3 separate regions of the Homo sapiens genome follow, and regions 2 and 3 are each linked to region 1. The links come from fine-mapping of genetic effects on plasma protein levels. A gene starts in region 1. Each other region holds a variant in brackets. All regions are shown on one strand. Distances are from middle to middle. Region 1 holds the start of SIRPB1 (signal regulatory protein beta 1). Region 2 overlaps SIRPB1 (signal regulatory protein beta 1). Region 3 holds the start of SIRPD (signal regulatory protein delta).

Evidence for each region. PIP is the posterior inclusion probability: the model's chance that the variant is causal. Protein levels are from the aptamer-based SomaScan assay of Sun 2018.
Region 2: its variant is fine-mapped to the plasma level of the SIRPB1 protein (Sun 2018, PIP 0.95). The variant lies in the coding sequence of SIRPB1. If it changes the protein, the assay may bind it differently, which can mimic a change of level.
Region 3: its variant is fine-mapped to the plasma level of the SIRPB1 protein (Sun 2018, PIP 0.95).

The regions. Positions count from the first base shown.
Region 1 is chr20:1,616,463-1,624,644 of GRCh38, reverse strand. It overlaps SIRPB1 (signal regulatory protein beta 1), which reads left to right and starts at 4,636. Exons shown (of 6, transcript NM_006065.5): 1 at 4,636-4,776. The coding sequence starts at 4,701.
Region 2 is chr20:1,573,681-1,581,862 of GRCh38, reverse strand. It overlaps SIRPB1 (signal regulatory protein beta 1), which reads left to right. Exons shown (of 6, transcript NM_006065.5): 2 at 3,169-3,525. Among named protein-coding and RNA genes, the nearest start is that of SIRPD, 20 kb to the right of the region's middle. The variant G/A (reference allele first, on the strand shown) is at 3,250.
Region 3 is chr20:1,557,502-1,565,683 of GRCh38, reverse strand. SIRPD (signal regulatory protein delta) reads left to right here and starts at 7,979. Exons shown (of 4, transcript NM_178460.3): 1 at 7,979-8,103. The coding sequence starts at 8,031. It overlaps SIRPB1 (signal regulatory protein beta 1), which reads left to right. Exons shown (of 6, transcript NM_006065.5): 6 at 187-4,299. LOC107985409 (a long non-coding RNA gene) reads right to left here and starts at 7,677. Exons shown (of 3, transcript XR_007067493.1): 1 at 7,560-7,677; 2 at 5,019-5,139; 3 at 4,147-4,232. The variant G/A (reference allele first, on the strand shown) is at 7,165.

The DNA of each region.
Region 1 (8,182 bases):
GCTGGGAATTTCCCAGAGATTTCTTGAATTGTGACCAAAATGCTGAGAGTAATATGGACCATGAAGTCCAGGCTGAGGAGGTCTCAGATGGAAATGATGAACTTCCTGGCAACTGGAGCAAAGATCGGTTTTGTTAAGTCTTGGCAAAGAGCTTGGAGGCACTGTGCCCCTGCCCTGGGGTTCTGTGAAACATTGAACTTGGGAGTGACAATTTAGAGTATCTGCTGGAAGAAATTTCTAAGCAGCAAAGCATTCAAGAAATTTCCTGAGGCGGGGCACAGTGGCTCACGTCTGTAATCCCAGCACTTTGGGAGGCCGAGGCGGGCAGATCACGAGGTTAGGAGTTTGAGACCAGTCTGGCCAATATGGTGAAACCCCATCACTACTAAAAATACAAAAAAAAAAAAAAAATTAGCCAGGTGTGGTGGTGCATGGCACACACCTGTAGTCCCAGCTATTTAGCAGGCTGAGGCAGGAGACTCACTTGAACCCGGGAGATGGAGGTTGCAGTAAGCCAAGATTGCACCACTGCACTCCAGCCTGGGTGACAGAGTAAGACTTTATATCACACACAAAAAAGAAGAAGCAGTTACCTCGCTGCTTCTAACAGCCTAATTCATATGCGTAAGCACAGAGATGACTTGAAACTGGAACTTATATTTAAAAGGGAAGCAGAGCATAAAAGCTTGGAAAATTTGCAGCCTGGACATGTGGTAGAAAAGAAAGGCCCATTTTCAGGCAACGAATTCAAGCAGGCTGTGAACTTTGCATGAGTAAAAAGAAGCCAAATGCTAATATTGAAAACACTGGGAAAAGCCTTCAAAGGCATTTCAGAGACCATCTCTTTACAGGCACAGAGGTCTAAGAGGGAAGAATGGTTTTGAGAGCCAGAACCAGGGCCTGCTGCCGTGTGCGGCCTTCGGACACGGCCCACTGCACCGCATTCACTCCAGCTCCGGTCTTGGCTCGAAGGGGCTCGAGTATATCTCGGCTGCTGCTTCAGAGGGTGCCAGCCATAAGCCCTGGTGGCTCCATGTGGTGTGAATTCTGCAGGTATGCAGAGTACAAGAGCTGAGGATTGGGAGCCTCTGCCTAGATGTCAGAGGATATATGGAAAAGTCTAGATGTCCAGGCAGAAGCCGGAGCCCTCATGAAGAACCTCTACTAGGGCAGTGCAGAAGGGAAATGTGGGGTTGGAGCCCCCACACAATTCCCACTGGGGCATTGCCTAGTGGAGCTGTGAGAAGAGGGCCACCTTCCTCCAGACCAAAGATTGATAGATCCACTAGCAGCTTGCACCATGTGCGGGGAAAAGCTGCAGGCATTCAACACCAAGTATGAGAAGAACCGTGGAATTTGAATTTTGCAAAGGCACAGAGGTGGAGCTGCTCAGGTTTTGGGAGTGCACCCCTTCCACCAGTGTGCCCTGGATGTGAGACATGGAGTCAAAGGAGATAATTTTGGAGCTTTAATGGCTGCCCTGCTGGGTTTCAGATTGCATTGCATAGGCCTGTATTCCCTTTCTTTTGGGCAATGTATCTCTTTTGAAATGGGAGTATTCCCATTCAGATGGCTAAAGCCAATGCCTATACCCCATTGTATCTTGGAAGTAACTGACTTATTTTTAATTTTACAGGCTTATAGGTGGAAGGCACTTGCCTTGTCTCAGATAAGACTTTGGACTTTTGACTTAATACTGAAATGAGTTAAGACTTTGGGGGACTTCTGGGAAGGTATGATTGTATTTGCAATGTGATAAGGACATAATATTTGAAAGTGGGCAGGAGAAAATGATAAGGTTTAGATCTGTGCCACCACCAAAATCTCATGTTGAATTGTAACCCCCAGTGTTGGAGGTAGGACCTGGTGGAAGTTGGCTGGGTCTTTGGGTCAGATTTCCCTCTTGGTGCTGTTCTCATGATGATGAGTGAGTTCTCATGAGATCTGGTGGTTTTAAAATGTGTGGCACCTCCCTACTCTCTCTCTCCCTCCTGCTCTGGTCGTGTAAATATGCTCACTTCCCCTTCACCTTTTGCCATTTTTGTAAGTTTCCTGTGACCTCCCAGAAGCTGATACCAGCATTATGCTTCCTGTAAAGCCTCTGAAACCATCAGCCAATTAAACCTCTTCTCTTTATCAATTACCCAGTCTCAGTCTCAGGTATTTCATTATAACAATTATAGAAAGAACAGATTAATACATCCACCTATTTGTTTTTTAAACAATTTAGCACTAATTATATTTTTTCAAAATTCTTCTTTTTATTACTTTTCTCAGATACCTGTTGTTACTGCACACCTACCTATTCTTGTTTCACACGTGACTTTGTTTTATGGATTTACTTTCTTTTCATTATCTCTATAAGGTTACTAAATATGTTAATGTTAAAAATATTTTCACATTTTATATTTTTATTTTCTGAGGTATTATTTTCTAAGATGTTATTTTCATTGCTGTTTTTGTTTTTTAGTTATTGTTTTTGAATTTATTATGATGTCGCTTTTCCCCAAATCTTTAGTGATTACTGCTTTCACTGTAATCTTTACAGGAATAATGCCCTGAGTGATCATGGGCTGTCAGCACTTTATGGAACATGGCACCTATCCCAACCTTGCTGTGGAGGCTGCGCCTAATTGACGTTATGGCTTCTTCTCTGCTTCCTTCCTGAGAGATATCTCTCCCTTCTTATGAGAGGTGTCATAGTGAAGGCCATGGAGTGTGACAACCTGTGTTCTAGTTCTAAAAGCTGGGTGATGTTGAACAAATGTATTATTGCCTGCGTGCCTCAAGTTTCCTCACCTATAAAAAAAGGTTAATGGTAGTGCTAATTTCATGGGACCAGAGTGATGAATTAATGAGGTAACTGACAAAATGCTTGGCACAGTACCTGGAGCACAGGACATCTGCAGTAAACACAGCAGCTACTACCCTTCATGTCATATAGAGACTAGTTTCTTGTTTTAAAGTGTAATTTGGCATCGATTAACATGATTTTATCATTTTTATATTCATTTCTGTGAGTGTGGAGCAGGAGGTGATGATTTCACCCTCTGTGCATCTGCCACATTGAAAAAGAAATTTGCATGGAAATGTGATGACTTTTACAATTTCATTTGACAATTACTCATGATAGGTGAAGGATTGCAAGCCCAGCATGGGAAAGAGAGGTTTCCAGACAGGTCTTTCTTAGTCACAGATGATGGAGGAGAAACCATTTCTCCTACCAAGGAAATTTTTCTAAAGCACAAGTATGTCAGGGAAGCAGTGAACTCACCCTGTACACAAATGTAATTATAGCCACAATTTTTTGGTTATAATTAAATATGAATCAAACCTTCTGTATGGCTTATATTACTCTTACCATATCACTACAAGGTGCATGTTATAACTTCCATTTACATGTAATTAAGTTAAGGCTTAGAGAAGTCAAGTGTCTTGTTGAAAGTCACACAGCTGGAGATTGTAAGAAAAGGAATTCATCTACAGATTGACAAAAAGCAGGGTGAAGAGGATCCAGAGGGAGAAATTGATCTCAGAGTGTCAGAGGTAGACCAAGTACACCATAAAAGCTGGGTTCCAGAAGTCCGGGGAACATGGGAGAAGGCCACTGGTGGGAAACTCAGCATGCAGTAGAAATCCATTTAAAAGCAATATTTGAGTTCCCTCTCTTCACCTGGCACCATGAGTATCAATAATAACCTACTGAATCTCAGGGATGTATAGTCATTATCTCTTTTGATGTTCACTAAAACATGGCAGTGAGACTTATTATCCCAAGGTTAGAAGGCAAAACTGAACCTAGGCAGGCCCAGTAACTTCCCCAACTCCTTAGCACATCTTCTTAGGGTATTTATTCTCCCTCCCTCCTCAGTTCCCATCTGAAGACAGTGATGAATGGAATAGGTGTTCTATGTGCAGAGCAAAGAGTATTGAAATCGATGTGACTGCTCCAGGAATCTGCCCTCCATATTCTCCCCCATAATAAACATATCCCCTTTCCATAACCCATAATCCCCACCTCACCTCACAAAGCAGATCCTTATTACCCTAAGCCCACTTCCTCTCCTGGAAGAAGTCAGGAAATAATTCCTTCTGCTGGGTGCAGGCATATGAAAGTGCTAACGGCCACATGAGACTGAATTTGGGCTAAGTTTTGCCATTTATATTTATAAAAGTTCGGAATAGGGAACCATTTCAAGAGCAGACCTGTTCCTCTCCAACACTGAGCAGGTCCAGTGATCCCTCATCCTGCCCCAACTGAGTAGCACTTGGTTGAGGCTGTTGTAGAATGAGACCACAAGCCAACCACATCCTGAGGTCTTGAGATGGAAAGTTTAGGAAACATTTCATAACCACAGGTCCTTCCTGGCTTAAGAGCACCAAATGGCAAATCACCAAGAAGACATAAAGATGGGGTTAGGAGTCATGGAAGGAGTTAAGACCTCAGGTGGGAAGGAAGCATTATTTCTGCTAAGCCTGTCTGATTCTCCTGAAATGGGGCATGCATAACTGCTTGCATTGTAGCTGCTTGCTGTTCCTGATTTCTGTTTCACAATCCAGAAGCAGGTTACTGCTTCACTCCATCGCAGCCACTTCCTCTTGAACTAAGGGAGGCAGGGCTTGTCTTCTCTCCTCAGAGCAGAGTCTGCGATCTTCCCAGCACAGACGTTTGGACAGAGCAGGCTCCTAAGGTCTCCAGAATGCCCGTGCCAGCCTCCTGGCCCCACCTTCCTAGTCCTTTCCTGCTGATGACGCTACTGCTGGGGAGACTCACAGGTGAGCACTGCCTTCGGTTAAAATCTTTTTTCCTGCCCACTGAGCCATGGCCTGTCCCTGGACTTTCAGGGATTCCGGACAATGACAAGTGCTGCCAAGAAAGGCCAAGGATTAGGCTTTGACTGAGAGCAGAAAATCAGGGAGCTGAGCACTTTCTCTGTGGATCTGCAGCTGGCTACCAGAGGCATTGAACCACAGGACGATTCAACCACCACAACAACAATTACTTACATTTTGATAATATTTCAATTGAAAAAGCAGAGAAGAATCATTATCTAAATCCTCACCAGTCCTGAGGCCCTAGGGCCAAGTGACATGCCCAAGTCCACAGAGTAAGCTCAGAGACACCCTAACAGGGTTATGTGGCTCTAGGCCCAGCCCTCTCTCTTCACCAAACTGAGGATGTGAAGTCTGTAATAGTGCTCACTTGAGTAGGGCAGTGGTGTGGTGTATCCTGGGAGTGTTCAGCCACCATCCTCCCTAAGGGTGCTCCTCACTTTGTCCTCTGTTCCCCCATGCTCCTCCCTCCCCTGTGACCTGATTCTTACCACCCATTTCTCTGTGGCCTCTTCCTCTTTAAGAAGTTCCACATTTGCTGCTTACTGGGTCCTATATTCCTTTCCTAGGGCTTCCATAACAAAGAACTGCAGGCTGGGTGGCTGAAACTACAGATATTTACTTCCTTGCAGTTAAGGAGGCTGAAGTCCAAGATCAAGGTGTCAGCAGGGTTAGTTTCTACTGAAGTCTCTCTCCTTGGCTTATACAGGGCCATTTTCTCTCTGTGTCTTAAACACATGATCTTCCTCTGTGTGTGTCTGTGTCCTCATCTCCTCTTCTTATGAGAATATCAGTCTTGTTGTATTAAGGCCCACCCCAATGACCTCATTTAACTAAATTACTTCTTAAAGACCCTGTCTCCCAAACTGTAACGTTCAGAGGTGCTGGGGATTAGAGCTTCAACACATGCATTTTGTGGGACACATTCAGCCCATAACAGGTACTACAACCTCCTTTGGTTCTCTTAAATTTCCCATGGATAATTTCTTTCCCCTTCCCAAGACAGGCAGGATTGGAGGGCCTTTCCTGGTGCAGCCTGGGAGAACCCTGCTCACAGCTCCCAGACAAGTTACCTGTCCTGATCCCTTCTCAGGCCATGGAGCTGACCCCAGAACCACAGGGCTGGGCACAGCAGCCTCTCAATTCCCCACTGGGCCCTGCTGTGATGTCACCTCACAGGCCCTAGAGGGCAGGGGTCTCACTTTTCAAATTATTTTTCTCACACATACACTGTACCCAAATGACAGCAGTAAGAGTTTAACAATTGAGCTCTTCCTACCATGTAGACACAGTTATTAGCATTTTGCCTGTTTTAGCTCCACTAATCCTCACAACATCCCTGTGTGAAAGCTGCAACTATTATCCCCTATTTCCAAACAAAGACTCAGGCAGAGGGAGGAACTTGTCCATTCATTGTCCCCTACCTCAGTCAGTGGAGCAGCTGAGATTCAAGTCCAGGTCGACCGGCTCCAAAGTTCATTCTTTTAGTCGTGTTATGCTACTAGCAGAAATATTAGAAAATGCAGGGAAGTAAACATAGAATTAATTATTGCCTACCACACTTGTTAGCAACAACCAGAGTTACAACTGTGATGTATGTACTTCTAAATTTGTTATTAATGTGTTGGATGCTTTCTATGGGCCACATATTTTACTTTCTATGGGCCAGATATTTTAATGAGATTTTAACGTGTGTTGTAATTTTATTTAATACACAAAACAAACTTATATACTATCACAATAGGTCACACTTTGATATATATTTGTGAATGTATATGTGTGTGTCTATATATACATATATATGTGTGTGTGTGTATATATACATATATGTGTGTGTATATATATTTGCAAATGTGTGTATACATATGTGTGTATACATATGTATATGCATGTATGCATATAAGTAAGTGTACATGCACACACAGGAGATTTCATTTTTTATCATTGTTTCTCCAAGTTTCTAATTTCAATGAAACTTTTAACAAAATATTTTATTTTTATTTGACAGAACTGTATATACTTATCATGTATACCATATTAATGAAATATGTGTACATTGCAGAATGCCTAATTTGAGCTAATTAACATATGACCTACCTTGTATATGTATCATTTCTGTGGTGAGATCTCTCAAAATCTGCTTTCAACAATTTTTGAGGTTACGAATTGTGTTATGAACTCTAGACCCCATATTGTACAATAGATTTGTGGAACTAATTTCTCCTAACTAAACTGAAATTTTGTATCCTTTGACCAATATCTCTCCAAATGCACCCCCTGCCTAGTGCCTGGTAACCAATATTCTACTATCTACTTCTATGAGTTCAACTTTTTAAAATTCCACATATGAGAGACATTATGCAGTATTGTCTTTCTGTGCCTGGCTTATTTTACTTAGCATAATATCTTCCAGGATCATTTATATTGTTGGAAATGATAGGATTTCCTTCTTTGGTCAGGCTGATTAGAATTCCATTGTGTATACCAATTTCCTTTCTCCATTTATCTGCTGATGGACATCTAGGTTAATTTAATATCCTGGCTATTGTAAATAATGCTGCAATGGACATGGGAGCACAGATATCTCTGTGACATGCTTATGTCATTTCCTTTGGATGTATGCCCAATAGTGAGATTGCCAGATCATATGATAGTTCTATTTTTAATTTTTTGAGGAGCCTCCATACTGTTTTTGCTAATGGCTCTACTAATTTACATTCCCACTAACTATGTGCAAGAATTCCCTTTTCTCCACATCCTCTCCAAAACTAGTTATCATCTTTTTTATAGTAGCCATTCTAACAAGTGTGAGATGATAGCTCACTGTGGTTTTAATTTGCATTTACCAGATGAATAGTAAGGCTGAGTATTTTTATAGGTCTGATGGCCATTTTAATGTCTTCTTTTGAGAAATGGGTTTTAAGATCTTTGGCCCATATTTTAGTTGGGTTGTTTTCTTAATATTGAGTTGTTTCACTTCCTTATATATTTTGTATATTGACTTTTCATTAGATGCATGGCTAGCAAATATCTTCTTCCATTCTGCTGGTTGTCTTTTCACTCTGTTGATTGTTTCCTTGGCTGTGTAGAAGCTTTTTAGTTTGTTGTAATGCCGTTTGTCTATTTTTCTTTTGTTGCCTGTGCTTTGGGACTCATATCTGAAAATTCATTGCCCACACCAATGTCATGGCACTTTTCTTCCAGTACTTTTACACTTTTAGATCCTACACTTAAGTCTTTAATACATTTTGAATTGATTTTTGTGTGTCATGTGAGAGGAAGGTCTAATTTTATTCCTCTACAGATGGATATCCAGGTTTCCCAATGCCACTTTTTGAAGAGACTGACC
Region 2 (8,182 bases), 43 kb after region 1:
CAAAAGGCAACACAAAGCTGTACATAGCATAGCACAAGAAAGTCATCAGGGTAAAAAGCCTTCTCAAATTGTGGAGCCAATCAGAGTAGCAAATCAGTAAGTCATGAGTCAAAGGCATTCCCTAGGAACTTTCCACCTGAGTTTAGAATGATCCCATCCTCATTGCCATTACTATAGAAAATGTTAGAGTGACTCCTGCTGGTTGAATCTTAGAGGATCACTCTAACATGGCCATGAAAAGTTCATATGAAGAGGCATACTCACAGTTCCTAGAGACAGAAGTAGGGCAGGCCATGCAGGAAGCCATGTGGAAGGAGCTCCCAAGGAGCAGGCTCAATCAAGCAGATGGGTAGGCAAGAGAGATGGGATCCCTGGGCAAGTGCCTTTACTGGGAGTCAAGGTGGAGGACACAAGCAAAAACACTTTTACTAGAGTGTTTCAATGTCACTAGGTCACAGTAGGGGAAGACAAGAAGAGGAATTGTGGCAGGGACCAGCTTTAAAATACTGGTTACCTGGTCACCTGGGCAGGGTGCTCACAGCTTGTTTGTGGGATATTGAAGCATGATTTTTAAAAAATGTACACATAACTGGATATCTTTATTTCTTCATACAACTTTGAGTTGCCATATAGCATCCTTTCATTTCCACCTGAAGCACTCCCTTTAGCATTTCTTGTAGGCAAGGTTTAATGGTCATGAACTCTGTTAGCTTTTGTTTATCTGAGAATATCATAATTTCTCCCTTGTATTTGAAGGACACTTTGCCAGGTATAGAATTCATGATTGACATGTTTTTCCTCTTTCAACATTTTGAACTTACCATCCCCCTATCTTCTGGCCTTCGGTGCATTGCATAAGAGCTGAGCTGAAAATCTTATTGAGGGTCTCTTGTATGGAAGAAATCGCTTCTGTCTTGCTGCTTTAAGGAGTCTCACCTGGACTTTAGGTGTCAACATTTGGATTATAATGTGTCTTAGTGTGGGTCTCTGAGTTTATTTGTGGGTTCAACTTGCGTTTCTTCTGTGTCTTCAATTTGTAGATTCCTGTATTTTAACAAGTTTGTGAAGATTTTTGTCCACTCTGTTTTCATATAATCTTCTATTCCTTTCTCTCTTTCTCTTTTTTCCCCCTGGAACTCTAGTAAGGTGTATGTTGATACATTTGATAATGTCTCACAATTCCCTTAGATTCTGTGCTCTATACTTTATTCTATTTTCCACCCACACCTCAGTCTCAATAATTTCAATTATTCCATCTTCCAGTTTTCTGATTATTCTTCCACCGGCTTATACCCATTGGGGGGACCCCTCTAGTGAACTTTTAGTTATTGTACTTTCAATTCCTAAGTTTCTGTTTGATTTCTTCCTATAATTTCTCTTTCTTTACATTCTCATTTTGTTAAGACATTTATATTCCTTTAGTTCTTGGTCCGTTATTTCCTTTACCTCTCAGCATTTTTAAGGCAGTGATTTTAATATCTGGGTCTAGTATCAGGGTGGAGCTAATACATCACAAGGGTGCTTATAAGAAGGAGGAAGATTAATTCTTGGAGAAGGACATTGAAACATCCTTGTATTCCAGGATGTTTGCAGGTGAAGATGCAAGAGGTTAGAGTGGTGGGAAGATGTAACTGTGAGAAAGGGATGGGAGAAACCTCTAGAATTTGGAAAGGCAAAAAACAGAGCCTCCAGAAGACACACAGCTCTGCTGAAAGCGCCTTAAAAAATGTAGACATGGAAGGTGTAAAACATGGTGCTTTCATATATGTATACATGTACATATACGTAGTGAAATGGTTATTAAAGTTAAGCAAATGGACACATCCATCATCTCCCATAGTTATGCTGCATGTGTTGTATGTCAACAGCACCTAAAATGTGCTTCTTAAGCAAAAATACTGAATTCAATACAACATTATTAACTAAAATCCTCAGATTGCACATTCATTCTCTGGACTTCTTCCTCAGACTTATCACAATTTTGTGTCTTTTGACCTCCCCATCAACTCCCCCAAGTTCACCCCTAGTCACCACTGTTTTATTCTCTATCTTTGTGTATTTGACGTTCATCATTTCTTCTTCATTGTACCCCAGTAACACTATTTTGGACTTCTAACCTCCAGAACTATAAAATGTTACATTTCTTTTAACACACTAAGTTTTGGTAATTTGTCACATCAGCATTAGGAAACTTAGGTAATGTGATTATGCTATGGGTGAAAAATTACCAGGGGCTTAAAACAAGGTTATATTTCTACTGGAAGCTACATATTCAGTGTGGATTGGCAGTTCTGCATGCAACGGTCATTCACGCATCCAGGCGATGGAGCAGGCCCTATCAGAGCCTCGTGGTCTCCGGAAGGGAGAAATTGATCCACAGAGGCTCTTGCAGTTAAATGCACAGCCCACAAATTATACCCATCATTCTGCTCATAACTCAAGGGTCTAAAGAAGTCACAGGGCCCCACCCAATCCAGTGATACAAAAAGTGCCACACTCCATGTACCACAGAGTGGAGGCCATAATTGGCAAAACATGGCACTTCCGAGGAGGGCTCAATAGTTCTACTCAGGTCCTCAACCCAAAGCTCTACATTGAAATTGAACCTCTTGGCCAGGCGCGGTGGCTGACACCTATAATCCCAGCAATTTGAAAGGCCAAGGCAGATGGTTTGCTTGAGCCCAAGAGTTAGAGACCACTGTGGGCAACATGGTGAAACTGTGTCTCTAGAAAAAATACAAAAATTGGCCAGGTATGGTGGAATGCACCTGTGGTCCCAGCTACTTGGCAGGCCAAGGAGAAAGGATCTCTTGAGCCTGGAAGATTGAGGCTACAGTGAGCTGTGATTGCACCACTGCACTCCAGCCTGGGCAGCAGACAGAGCAAGACCCCGTCTCAAAAAAGAAAAGAAAAGAAAGCAAACAGAAAGAACAGAAGAAAGTAAGGAAAAGGAAATTGAACCTCTCTGTGCCTCAGTGTTCTCGCTTGTATTACAGTCTTACGTCACAGGCCAGTTGTGAGGGTTAAATGAGATAATACATGTAGTGGGCTGAGCTCAAGGCCTTTTCCTGGTGTGCACCCAGTCAATGAAAGCCATTGATAAACACTTGAGGAAACACAGAGAATCAGGTAAGGATGAAGAAATGACTGCTTTGTGCTCCTTTCCAGGAGTGGCAGGTGAGGACGAGCTACAGGTGATTCAGCCTGAAAAGTCCGTATCAGTTGCAGCTGGAGAGTCGGCCACTCTGC[G/A]CTGTGCTATGACGTCCCTGATCCCTGTGGGGCCCATCATGTGGTTTAGAGGAGCTGGAGCAGGCCGGGAATTAATCTACAATCAGAAAGAAGGCCACTTCCCACGGGTAACAACTGTTTCAGAACTCACAAAGAGAAACAACCTGGACTTTTCCATCAGCATCAGTAACATCACCCCAGCAGACGCCGGCACCTACTACTGTGTGAAGTTCCGGAAAGGGAGCCCTGACGACGTGGAGTTTAAGTCTGGAGCAGGCACTGAGCTGTCTGTGCGCGGTGAGTACAGCGTGGGCCTCCTTTGTCCCCTGGTGTGTGACAATAACTCAATAATTACATTATCCATTCTTGGAGCAACAGCCAGGTGTGGTGGTGGCTGAGCAGCCACCCTTTCATGAACTGATGTCACCCTTTCTCCAGATCACATGAGTTGAGGCTTGGAGATGTCATGGCAGTCGCTCGAGGCTCCACGGCTTGTAAATGATGGGACAGAAGGCATCCCCAGTCTGCGGCTCTACAGCTCTTGTGTTTCCAAAGCTGACCCAGCCCTTTGGTTCCACAGATGAGGGAACTCACAATTTGAGTGACTTGTCCAGGCACAGGGCTGGACCTTGCCTTCTGCCTCCAGAGAATGCTTCCCCCTCAGGGTGGCCAAGTCCCTTCTTTATGCAACAGGCAGTCACTGAGACCCCACTGTGTGCCAGGCTCTGCCCTGGATGCTGCGCAAACAGCAGTGAATGAAACAGCCTAAAGCGCTCCCCCACCAAGCTTACATTCTCTTCCCTTCTAATGAGGAGAAATCCGTCCAGGGCATGGAGAGGGTAAATCGTGGTTGTTTTTTTTTTTAATTTAATCTTCAGAAACACCCCACGGGGAAGATTTCTCGGAGGCACATTCACGGTTGAATCTGATGGCTTGGTGGGAGGAGATGCCAATATGTTTGGCATTTGCTGTGGGTCTATTTGGGAAACCCTTCTGTGATTTGGGGACTGAGTCACAGAGTTACCATGGGCTCCGAGCAGAGCTGCATCATCTCAGAATGTCCCTCACCTCAGGAAAGAGGTCCCACAAGTGGGTGACTTAGGGGTTCCCCATATAAGGTAGCAACAATGCTTATGTGGGGTTTCCTGCCAGAGCCCCAAAAGCCTCGTCTTAACTGCTGAATTCTGGCATGTCAGCACAGGAAGGACCTTCAGACCATCCAGCCCAACCCCCTTTACAGATGGGAGACTGAAGCCAAGACATGACAGGGGCCTTGTCCATGGTCACAGGGCCAGTTAGTGACAGAATTGGAGCCAGAGTCCATATCTGAATCGTGGCAGTCTCCTTCCTTCCCCAGCATTAGACGCTGTCTCCATAGAAGAGCCTGGTGCATCATAGGTGCTAGATAAAAGTTCCCCAAACAGAGCCAGGTGTCAGAGAGCCAGCATTTCTCTTTTCATCAGTTTCCCAAATGTTAAGAATGCACCTCACATTCAGATACTAAAGCTCATTGGTGACTAGAAAACTTCTCCCAAATGTAAGCCCTGTCATTTCATATCGAGATTCCACATCAGGACATAGAGAACTGCTCCAGTTTTTTTACAGCTGAAAAATACTCCAATTTATGGAAATACCAAAATTTATTTTACAGTCTTCTGTTGATGGATATGTAAGTTATTCCCAACATTGAGCTACTACAACAATCATGCAGTGGATGACCTTGTACATGTGTCACCCTACTCAGGTGGGAGATTCCCACTGGAAGTGGTGTTTCTAGGTCAGAGGATAGTGTGTTTTCATATTTGAGAATATTGCCTAATTTCCCTTCTAGATGATGTAGCAATCAGAGATTACAGACTTGAGCTACCATGCCTGGCTAATTTTGTATTTTGTAGAGACAGGGTTTCTCCATGTTGTTCAGGCTGGTCTCGAACTCCCAAACTCAGGTGATCCACCCGCCTCAGCCTCCCAAACTGCTGGGATTACAGGCGTGAGCCACCATGCCTGGCCCCACTTCAAACATTTTTAAGACAGTGGTTTTAACATCTGGCTCTAGCATCAGGGTGGACACAATACATAAGAAAGGTCCTTACAAGACAGAGGAAGGAGATTAATTCTCAGAGAAGGACTTGTGAGGATATAAGCAAGAGGTTAGAGTGATGGGAAGATGTAACTGTGAGAAAGGAATGTGGGCAGCCTCTGGAATTTGGAAAGGCAAAAAAACAGAACCTCCAGAAGACACATAGCTTTACTAACAGCTTTTTAAAAAAATGTGTATATGTAAAGCCTAAAACATGATGCTTTCATGTACATGTATGTACATGAAAATGTACATTGCTCAGTAATGACTGAAATCAGCTCCCCACAACCCTTGAACTTAGACAAGGAAGGTGGCTTTATCCTGATTGTGCAGATAATATTGGCAAAGACACTGAAATGCCCAGGTGGTGCCTCCCCAGCCCAGGCAGCCACAGCCAGTGGTGGCTCAGGTGTGACTCAGATCTGCTCACTCCTAGTGAAGTACTCACTCCTCTTTGCCATGCTCTCGGCCTAAATGATGAGCTACATGAGAAAGGAGGGAGGTGGGGAAGGGGGCCAGAGAGCAGCAACTGTGCCAGAGTCTCCTTATAACCAGTGCTATGAGGGAGAAGCCATTTGCTACCTCCTTTAAAGATGAGGACACTGAAGCTCAGAGAGGAGACCTGACTTGGGAGCAGGTCAGGGAGCCAAGGCTGGAACCCCGCAGCCTGACTCACAGCCTTTGTCTTTGTGACACTCAACTGTGGTTTTTCAAGAGTGGAGAAATGCTCCAACCTTCTCTTTCTAAACTCTTGCATTGTTCAGTTCTACAGCAAAAAGCATTAAAAACAAAACAAGAACCCTGTAGGGGTAGGAGGGCCTGTCTTCACACTCCCATCAGAAAGGCCCTGCGCATGTCTCATGATATGCCAAGCCGGTTCCTAAAGGACAGGTCTCAACACACATGAGGCATTTAGGACTCTTCCCCCATGTTGTGTTGTTTCCTCTTCACTCAGCAGCGTCCAATGAGCAGAGTCGAGCCTCCTGCAGCCCAGCAGAGCACGTATCTGCCCGTTCATGGTGCTGAGGACTAAGGATGAGGAGATGAGGCATTTCCTAGAGAGTGTTTGGGGCCCATGTGAGCAAGAGTTGAGATTCTCCCCTCCGGCTGTCAGGAGCCCACTGTCTTTTGCTTATGGCTGCAGGGTAACCAGGCCTGGGCACCCAGGAGGGAGGCTTCTCCCTAACATTGCATGAAGTCTAGAATCTCAAAGGGACAATTGAGGTGGCAGTCAGTGTTGGAGCTCAAGAAGTTAGAACACTTGCTCTGTTAATGGACATAAGTGCTTGGTGGGACACAGGAAATGCCCACTGGGACACATGGAGAATCGGGAGACAGTGCCTTCATTTTGTTCAGCCACGGCATCTTCATCTGTAGAATAGAGACAATCATGGACTCCTTTAGGAAAGTCGTAAGCGTAAGGTTCTCTCTGTAAATCACCTAGCACACTGTAGGCACCCCCAAAGTGAGGTGTTATTTCAAGATCGTGTGATCTTGGGCCAGTCTTGCCTTCCCTTGAGTCCTCGGTTTCCCCATCGGTGAGATGCTGATTATCATGGCCTATTCTGGGTTCTGTGAGGATTGGAGAGGATGTGCACAGAGCCCCTAATGGTGGTGTCATTCAGGTTATTACTGAGCTTCTGCAGAACTGTCGTTAGGAGAACACAGGCAGTATCCCAGCTGCCTGGGCCTCTTCCCGGCTCTGCCACTTCCTGGCTCTGTGACCTGGGACAAGGTGCTTCACCACCATAGGCCTCGATGTCCTCACCCTTTGATGGTAACACTGACCTCACAGACTGGGCCGAGTCTGAAGGAGTGATATTGTGTAAAATGCTTAGGGCATCAACAAGCACACAGTAAATGCTCAATAAAGGTGAGTTGTGTTAGGGTGAAGCTGTGTGACCTCAGACAGGTCAGGGCATCTCTAGGCCCCAAGTATAAATGGGGTTTGGGTTGGAGTCCAGTGGCTTTCAACCTTGGCTGCTCATTAGAATCATTGGGAAAACTATCAAAAAAAAAGTTTGCAAAGCTGGACCCAGGAACCCCCCTAAAATGCCAATTTAATTGCATCTAATTTGGGCCTGGATATCTAAAGTTCTTAATGGCTCCAGAAGATTCTCATACACAGCCCCCTAGCAAAAGCGGTGCCCCAGGTTTTGGGGCTTTGAGAACAGCTTTTTGGGTCATGGGTGCTTCAAAACAGCCATTCTGGAAACATTCTGGGAGGCCCCAGAAGCCTGAACAGGACCCCTCCCATGCTACTGGCCTCAGGGCCCAAGATAGGAGACTGGGACAAAGCCTGGCTCAGATGCAGCCTCAGGGCTGGGGAACCTTCTGTCTTGAAAACATTTGTATCTAAACACGTGCTGGAGTCCCAGCAAATCCTCACTCCTCAGCCCCAGAAGCCTCCCTCCCTCAGCACTCCCAGATGTCACTGAGGTATCTTTTCCCTCCTTCTTCCAAAATGCTTCCAGCTTCCCCTGTGATCTTACTTGAAAGCCAGTTCGCCAAACATGGTGGTTGCTGCTCCTTTTATCATTTGGGTTTTTTCTGGCAGCTGCGGTGAGTAGGGTTTGAGCCTTTCCTTGGTGTTTGTGTGCCTCTTTGTTCTGTTGCCTAAAGAATAGCTATGCAGCTCCAGAAGCAGTAATGACCAAACCTCATGATTACAGTCACAGGGGTTATTTATTAAGCACCTACTACATGCCAGGCTATGCCCTTGCACTTACCCTCACTCATCTTCCCAGGGTGGGGTTTCTATCTACTTTTGGCCCTTGGCCACCAAGGATCCTCTCAGAGTCTCGCCCTACACAAGGGCTCACATGAGGACCCCCTCTGACAAATAGAAGGAGGATTGAAGTGCTGAGAGGTACA
Region 3 (8,182 bases), 59 kb after region 1:
TGGAAGAAGTGCTGAGCTGGCAGAGTCCTATCTCAGGTCTGCCTGTCCACCCATAACAGGCATCCCAAGAGGAGACCAGCACTAGGGACATATCAGGCTCTCAGGAAACATTTCTTAAATGATGAGCAGATGAATGAATGTGGATGTGTTTTCCAACAGCTCCTTCCTTCCTTCCCTGCCATGTAGGACCCTCAGTCTCTGCTGCCTCCTCCTTTCTTGAGAAGCTCAGCCTGAGAGAAGGAGCTGGCGAGAACCTTCCCCACACTCAGCTCCAAACGCCTCCTCTCCCAGGTCATCTGCCTGCCCACACGCTCCTGTTCCACCTTCACAAGACCATGATGCCCCAAAGCAGTGTCTCTATTCACGGTCCTGAGCAGGGGCCATGGGATTGGGCTCTGGGCACTGACTCATGGCACCTCCCTAGAAGGTGAGAAACACTCCAAATCTAAACACACCAGGACTTCTCCCATCCGTCGCCTTGGGACTGGCCATAAACCACAGACTCTCTCCAGGCTCTCAAGAGTTATCCTGTCTTCTGGATTCCTGCCTACCCCAACTCCCCCAGCCTTGTTGAGGTTCTCTACTGCCTCCTGAATACACATGAACCCCTATACCAATTTTAAGAAAAAAATGATTCTCTTTCCTCTTTGTCCAAGCATCCTATCCCTCAAACCCAAAAAGAAAGAAGCTCTCCCTTCTCTCTCTGTGATGGAGACAGTATTTCTTCTAGTATCCTGCAGCCTTCCCAGTCCTGCTGCTTGTGGTAGAAATGCTGCCACAGCCCAACATTGAGGAGCCCTCGATGACTGCCCTTTACAACTCATATTCAGTTCTGCCTCCAAAATGCATGTGTCCACTTACATGAGATGGTAAATGTTTAACAATGGACTTTCTGAAAGGGAAAAACCAAAAGCTGTTTTGCAGTGCTTGCCAATTTCTCTAGTGTAATAACTCCCAACCTGACCAATTTCACACTGCCAACAGTTAAACAACCAGATTGCAAGATTCCTGAAATTTAACAATTGGTTTTCAGGGCCCAGTCCAAGCCTGCTGCTGGAAACCTCAGAGTTAAATCCCTATTCTCCACACCTCTCACCTCCACCACCCCTCCCTGTCCCAGCCAGCATCATCTCTTTGGGGACCACTCCTCTGGCTTTCATTTTTCAGCCACAGTGATTCTTTGGAAAAGTCAAATCATATCACTTCTCTGCTTCTTCCCCAACACAGCTGCATGGCTCCCGCTCTCCCTCCTTCAAGTCTCTGCTCAATGTCACTTCATTAAAGGCACCTTCTATAAACTACCTTGTATAAAATATTATTTATTTTCTCTATCCCGGCATTCTAATTTCTCTTATCCTAATTAATTTTTCTTTAGCCCTTATTTTGATGAGTATTATGCCGAATACAGGCAGCCCTCACTTTTCATGGCAGTGCAAGATTGCAAAAATGACTGTGCAACCTGAAACCCAGGAAAGCAGTCTCCATAGTCAATCAGAAAAACAATGATCATTCTGTGACCTTTACCATTTTTTGTCAAAATATTAGAAACTCTCACACTCTCAGTTACAAATGTAGAGGACAATGAAAATATAATGAAATAAATATTTATTTGTGCACTACAATTCAAAGCATTAGAAACATTGAGAGTTCAAGTGCTGTTTCTTTGTAAAAATGTATCCAGAGTAGTTGGAAGAGTGCTTGCCTTTTTTTGTATATTTCTAATATGGAGTGATATAGTTTGGCTCTGTGTCTCCATCCAAATCTCATCTTAAATTGTAATCTGCATGTGTTGTGGGATGGGCCTGGTAGGAGGTGACTGAATCATGGGGGCGGACTTCCCCCTTGCTGTTCTTGTGATAGTGAGTTCTCATAAGATCTCAGTGAGTTCTCATGAGATCTGGTTTTTTGAAAGTGTGTGGCAAGTCCCCCTTCGCTCTCTCTCTCTCTCTCCCTCCTGCCACCATGTGAAGAAGGTGCCTGCTTCCTTTTCTCCTTCCACCATGGTTGTAAGTTTCCTGAGGCCTCCCAGTCATGCTTCCTGTTAAGCCTGTGGAACTGTGAGTCCAATTAAACCTCTTTTATTCATAAAATATCCAGTTTCTGGTAGTTCTTTATAGCAGTGTGAGAATGGGCTAATACACGGAGCAAGCATTGTTTCTTTTCATTTGTTTATTTTATTTTTATTTTTTTGAGATGGAGTTTCACCCTTATTGCCCAGGCTGGAGTGCAATGTCGTGATCTTGGCTCACTGCAACCCCCGCCTCCAGGGTTCAAGTGATTCTCCTGCCTCAGCCTCCTGAGTAGCTGGGATTACAGGCATGTACCACCACACCCAGCTAATTTTGTATTTTTAGTAGAGATGGGGTTTCTCCATGTTGATCAGACTAGTCTTGAACTCCCGACCTCAGGTGATCCACCTGTCTTGGCCTCCCAAAGTGCTGGGATTACAGGCATGAGCCACCATGCCTAGCCAGCAAGCATCATTTCTATTATACCTTGGTGTTTTGCCATCTTTCTAAGTTTGGACTAGCTTCCAACATCTTATCCCTTGAATTTTCAATATTGTGGAATCACTCCAGAAGATCCTTTCATGTGAAGTTTTTTGCTGGCATTTCAACCTTTGGGACATCTTCAGCCCTTTTATTACCACTCCTCTCCCATTTGTGGCAGTTTGCGTTTACTACCTCCCTCTGGCTGCCTATCTGAAGTTCCTGCATCAGGGTCTACATTGCCACAGTCAACTATTTGTACTTCTAGAATTCCACTCACATTCAATTTGAACCTCACTTGCAGCATTTTCACTTCTCATTTCTTCACTGCACTTTCATCTTGGTTGCAAAATTCCTCTTTCAATTATTCATTTCTGTAAAATGTCATATGGGCTCATCACTGGGAGGCAAGGAGGCAACCCAACTATAGGATTTGCTGTTTGAGTAGGAGAGCCATAGGGACCAATCACCAACAGACTTTGAAAGACACAACATGACTGGTTACTGATCATGACGAGCTTTTATTACCATGGTGATTTGTGGACTGAAGAGCTAGCCCAGAAGTTTGTACTCTATGCAAATTACATTAAATTTACTATGGCACCTAAATTTTGAGACTTGTGTTGTGGGACTGATGTTACTTAACTAAACTATGGTAAGAGAAATGCATGCATGTCATCACCAAAGTGAGAACTGCCTGTATTTATCTATGTTACGCAAATGGAATGTCAGTTATATCGTGGGGGGTTGGGGGTGGGGGAGGATTATCTGTATCCTCAGTTGCCAGAACTGTGTCTGCCATATAATAGGCTGTCAATTTTTTTAAATGAGTGAATACATCATTGAGGTCATTGGTTTCTACTAGGTGTTGGATTTCAAAAGAAAACTTCTCTTCATTTGATCACTTGGCTTGTGTGCTGTATTCTCAAGCTCTTTCTTTAAAGACTACTCTCTCTTCTTTCTGTTTAAAACATTCCATCAAAAATTCAACATCCTCTAGAAAGTAAGAAAGTGCTAACAAGAAAAAAAAGTCAACCCCAAAACCAAAACCCACAGTGACTGGAGTACATCAAAGAGGCGCAGGAACCAACTGAAAGAGCTCCCAAAGGCCAAAGCTGGAACACTTTCAGCAAAAAAATAAGTAAAGTAGTAATGAGTTATAGTCCAAAGTATAAAATAAATATCTGAGTCCATACTGATATAAATAAATGATTGAATAAATTAATGGGAAAGAAGAGAAGAATCTCCAGTGCAGAAGAGTCCCAGATAATTTATTTATACACTCCACTCTAAAGGAGGTGGAACATAACTTCCACTCCTGAAGTGTGGGCTGTGCACTGCGACTTCTTTGCAAAGAGTACAGCATGGAAAAAAGGAGAAAAAATAACTTTACAGTGGAAAAATCTGACAAATACAGCTTCAGCCAGGTGATCAAGAGTTCATCAACAGTTATAAATCAACATCAAGAATCATAAATCATGTCACTAATATGTACCTTTAATATGATGTGATGAAGATGACACTTTTCCTCTATTACCTTCCCCCCAAAACTCACAACCCCAATCTAATCATGAGGAAAACATCAGACAAATTTCAATAAGGAGGCATTCTGCAACATCGGGCCCAGAACTCCTCAAAACTGTCAAGGTCATCAAAATCAAGGAAAGTCTAAAAAACTGTCATAGCCAAGAGAAGCTTGAGGAGATATGACAAGTAAATGTAACAGGTATCCTGGATGGGATGCTGGAAGAGAAAAACGACATTAGGTAAAAAGAAAAGATCTAAATAAACTATGAACTTTGATTAATCATAATGTATCAATATTGGTTCATTGATTATAATAATGTATCATATCAATGTAAGATGCTAATGATAGGGCTCAATTTTTCTGTAAATCTAAAGCTGTCCTTAAAAAATTAAGTCTATTAGAAAAAATTAACGTCTTGTCCTCAGCTAGGTTTTATTTGCCTCTTGTACCCCGTGGGGAACAATGCAAGGAAATGTGCGGTAGGGAGACTTTGTTGATATTCCAAAGTTTTATCTCACTTCAAAAGCCTGAGGTTTCCTTTCCTCTCGTCCTTCCTCTGTCCACTACCAGAGCTCACCCCAGATCTAGGCACTCAGATCCCAGAGGAAGTGGCTTCTCAATCCCCCGTGATGCTCACCCTAAACTTTTCCCATTAGTAAAATCCAGGTCAGACCAAGTGGGATCAGAAAACTTTGGGTTATGTGGGTGAGCTGGGATAGCTTTGAGGACCTGACTATGAGTGAGTGAATAATGTCCTGAGCCCAAGTCTTCACAGGAACAAGTTGTTCCCATGAATTGTGTAATGGATGCTGAGAGGCACCTGGCTGTGGAGATGGTCCTCAGCATCAGCTCTATTTGCGATTGTCTCAGCTGAAGGGAGTGCCCTTGCTTAGGTCGTATCTGGTAACAAACCACATCTCATTGGACTCATCAACCTAGTCGTATAAAGGCCCAGCTCTCTTATCCTAACTCAGAGCAACTCTGGAGGAATATCCTAGTACCAGGCTCCATGCAAGGTCAGCTGAGGTCTTCAATGGGACTTCATTGCAGCCCAGCTTCTTCTTCTACCCAGTCCTGCTTCCATCTTCTCCCGTCCACAAGTGTTGATCCTAAAAGTACTCCCTGAAAGATAACCTGCTTGTTCATCTTCACCCCAGAGTCTGTCTCCCAGGGAACCCAACCTGGGACAGTGAAGCTATGCTACGTATCAGAAAGGTGGGGATCCCTTCATCTCTAAGGGAGCAAGTCAGTCACAGAAGAAAGCCTTGTTTATAGTACCTCCAGATTAATGAGAATCCACAAAAATGTTTATTCAAGAGAGGGACATAATTAAATCTATGTTGTAAAAAGACCAGTCTGGCTGAAGAAGGAGAAAGAGATTATAGGGGGCAAATAAAAATGGGGGTACCCTAGTGAGAAGGCAATTGTTCTTATTCAGGCAAGAGATGATGATAGAGATGGAGAAAGAGATTAATTCAGAAGGGATTTAGGAGGTAAATCCAATAGGGCCTGGTAGGGGCAAGATAGGAGTGTGAAACTATGCCCCCAAAGAGTTAAAGAAACCAGTCACTAAGAAATTCTTGAGTTTACAGGATAGCAGATAAGAAAAAAAAAAAATTGCTAAACTGCCGAAACTTCCTCCACTTGTAGGATAACAAAACTGACTAAAATCTGTTGGAACCAATATGGCCAACTGGAGTTTGCTCAGAATGAGCTTGCTGATGTCACAGCCTGAGTTTCTACCACGTATTTCATGATGACGCCCCAGGGTTTTGCACATGGGAGCCGTGAAGAGGCATAGAGAGATAACTGTACATGCCCAAGGACTTTCCAGACCTCCCCTTTCCTTTCACAAATCACATACTAATCCCAGAATCCAACCCCTAAACTTTTGCTAATAAAACTACTGCCTTGAAGCCAGCACATGGAGCTAGATTTGAGGTAGACTTCTGTCTTCCTGTTAGTCAACTTGCAATAAAAAGCTTTTCTTTTCTCAAAAGCCTGGTGTCACAGTATTGGCTTCTAGCACATCAGGCAGCAACCCCCTTTCACTTGGTAACAAGTGGATAAGTGAGGGTATAGAACATGAGTCCCTTCCTGGTTTGACAAACTGCTTAGATGATGGTACCATATACAAAACAGGCATGGTGTGGGAGAAGATAAGGTTTGTGAGTGCAGATCTGAAACTCAAACTTGAATATTTAAGGTATACAAAGAGGCCAGGCTCAGTGGCTCACACCTGAAATCCCAGCACTTTGGGAGGCTGAGGCAGGTGGATCATCTGAGGTCAGAAGTTCGAGACCAGCCTAACCAATATGGTGAAACCCTGTCTCTATTAAAAATACAAAAATTAGCCAGGCGTGGTGGTGGGCGCCTGTAGTCTCAGCTACTCGGGAGGCTGAGGCAGGAGAATCACTTGAACTCGGGAGGCAGAGGTTGCAGTGAGCCGAGGTCATACCATTGCACTCCAGCCTGGGCAACAAGAGCGAAACTCTGTCTCGAAAAAAAAAATACATATATATATATATATACAAATGAAGATGTCAAGAAGGTTGCAGAATATACAGGTCTGTATCATGGGCCCAAGATTACTCAGCTCTTAGGAGGTGCGTTCAGGATTCTAGCCTAGATTATATCTGATTCCAAAGCTGGCACTCTTGGATACTGACCCGTGAGTACTGACTCTCCAAGGAACTTAGAGTCTAATGAAAGGTGAGAAGATTCCTCAGAGTAGGGGAAGGGGAGGATGATGGAGGCTGGAGGAATGTTCCTGTCTAGTTCCAAGCAGGGGCCATGGATAGGAATTCCTTTGTGGAATTCATCATTTCAGAACAACGGGATAGGATGATGACATCACAAGGGGATGGGGACTCTTGTCGTCTCAGAGAGAACGTGCCAGCCTGGCTCTGCTTTCTTTTCCTAGAGGGTCTAACACCTCTCCCGGCCCTGACATCTAGCTGGTTCCTGAGGAGGAGGCAGAAGTCATGAGGAGGCAATGGGGAAACAGCCATGGCAGCCAGTGCCTGCCTGTGGATGCTTGGACATTAAAGGGTCACCAGCTGAGTGTGGGCTGAGTGTCCCTGAACACAACATTTGTGCTTAGGAAGAACCCATTCCAGAGCTGAGAGAGAAGGATGCCAACATGCT[G/A]CTTCCTCCCTCTTTCTGGGGGCATTTCTTCTGCCCCTCCAATCCCATCTCTGAGAGCTGGTCCCAGGTCCAGCCCAAGCAGGAGAGGCAGCCCTCACCTTCCCAGGTGTTTGTAGGCATGTTACTCTCCCTCCTAGAGAGTGTTCCCCGCAGCTCCGCCTTCCCTGCAGGCCTCCTCCATCCTCTAAAGCACAAATCATCACCACCTGCACAACTCGAATGTCTTTCTCAGCCATGCCTGATTCCTCTGCAGGAAGGAAAAAGGAAGCAGTTCCTGGTAGTGTATGGAGGGACCCACAGAAAAGCCAAGAGCCCACAGCAGATATTGCTTGTTTTTTACCTCTAACTACTCTGGAGTGCAAGAAAGGGCATCCATTGTAAAGTCCAACTCTTACCAAGTGGGTGAGGCTATAGACATCTTGTCTCTTTCTTCAGCTGTGCAGCTCAGACAGGCCCAGATGTTGAGCTCATGCAGGAGCTAGACCCATACCTGCGCATCATGTGGATGAGGCCTTTGTCTAGCCTATGTGTCTGAGGCTCCTAGATAGGCAAAGGCCATGAAGTTGGGGAGAACCTGTGAGATGGGATGAAACTCAGGAAGGAGTATAAGGCTGTGGGTGTCAAGCCCCCCAGCCCCAGCAAAGCTAAATACTTCCAGCAGCAACTTCCTAGCTTGAAGCAACCTTGTCTGTTCAATTTTATAATCACAAAGGAAAAAGTGTCCCAGTCCCCTGGCCTTTCCTCTCATCACAATCCCCTTCCTCTGACATCACAGAGGCAAGAACTGTCTTCTCTGCTCGGAGCACTGAGTCGAGGGCATCTCCAGGACAGGCATTCAGGCAGAGCAAGCTCCAGGTTTCACCACAATGCCCATCCCTGCCTCCCCACTCCACCCACCTCTGCCTTCCTTACTGCTGTATCTGCTGCTTGAACTGGCAGGTGAGTGGGGCCTCAGTGTATGTGTGTGGTGGGTTCTCCCCTCTGCCTGTTTAGTGAACTCTCCCTCACCTGTTCCCAT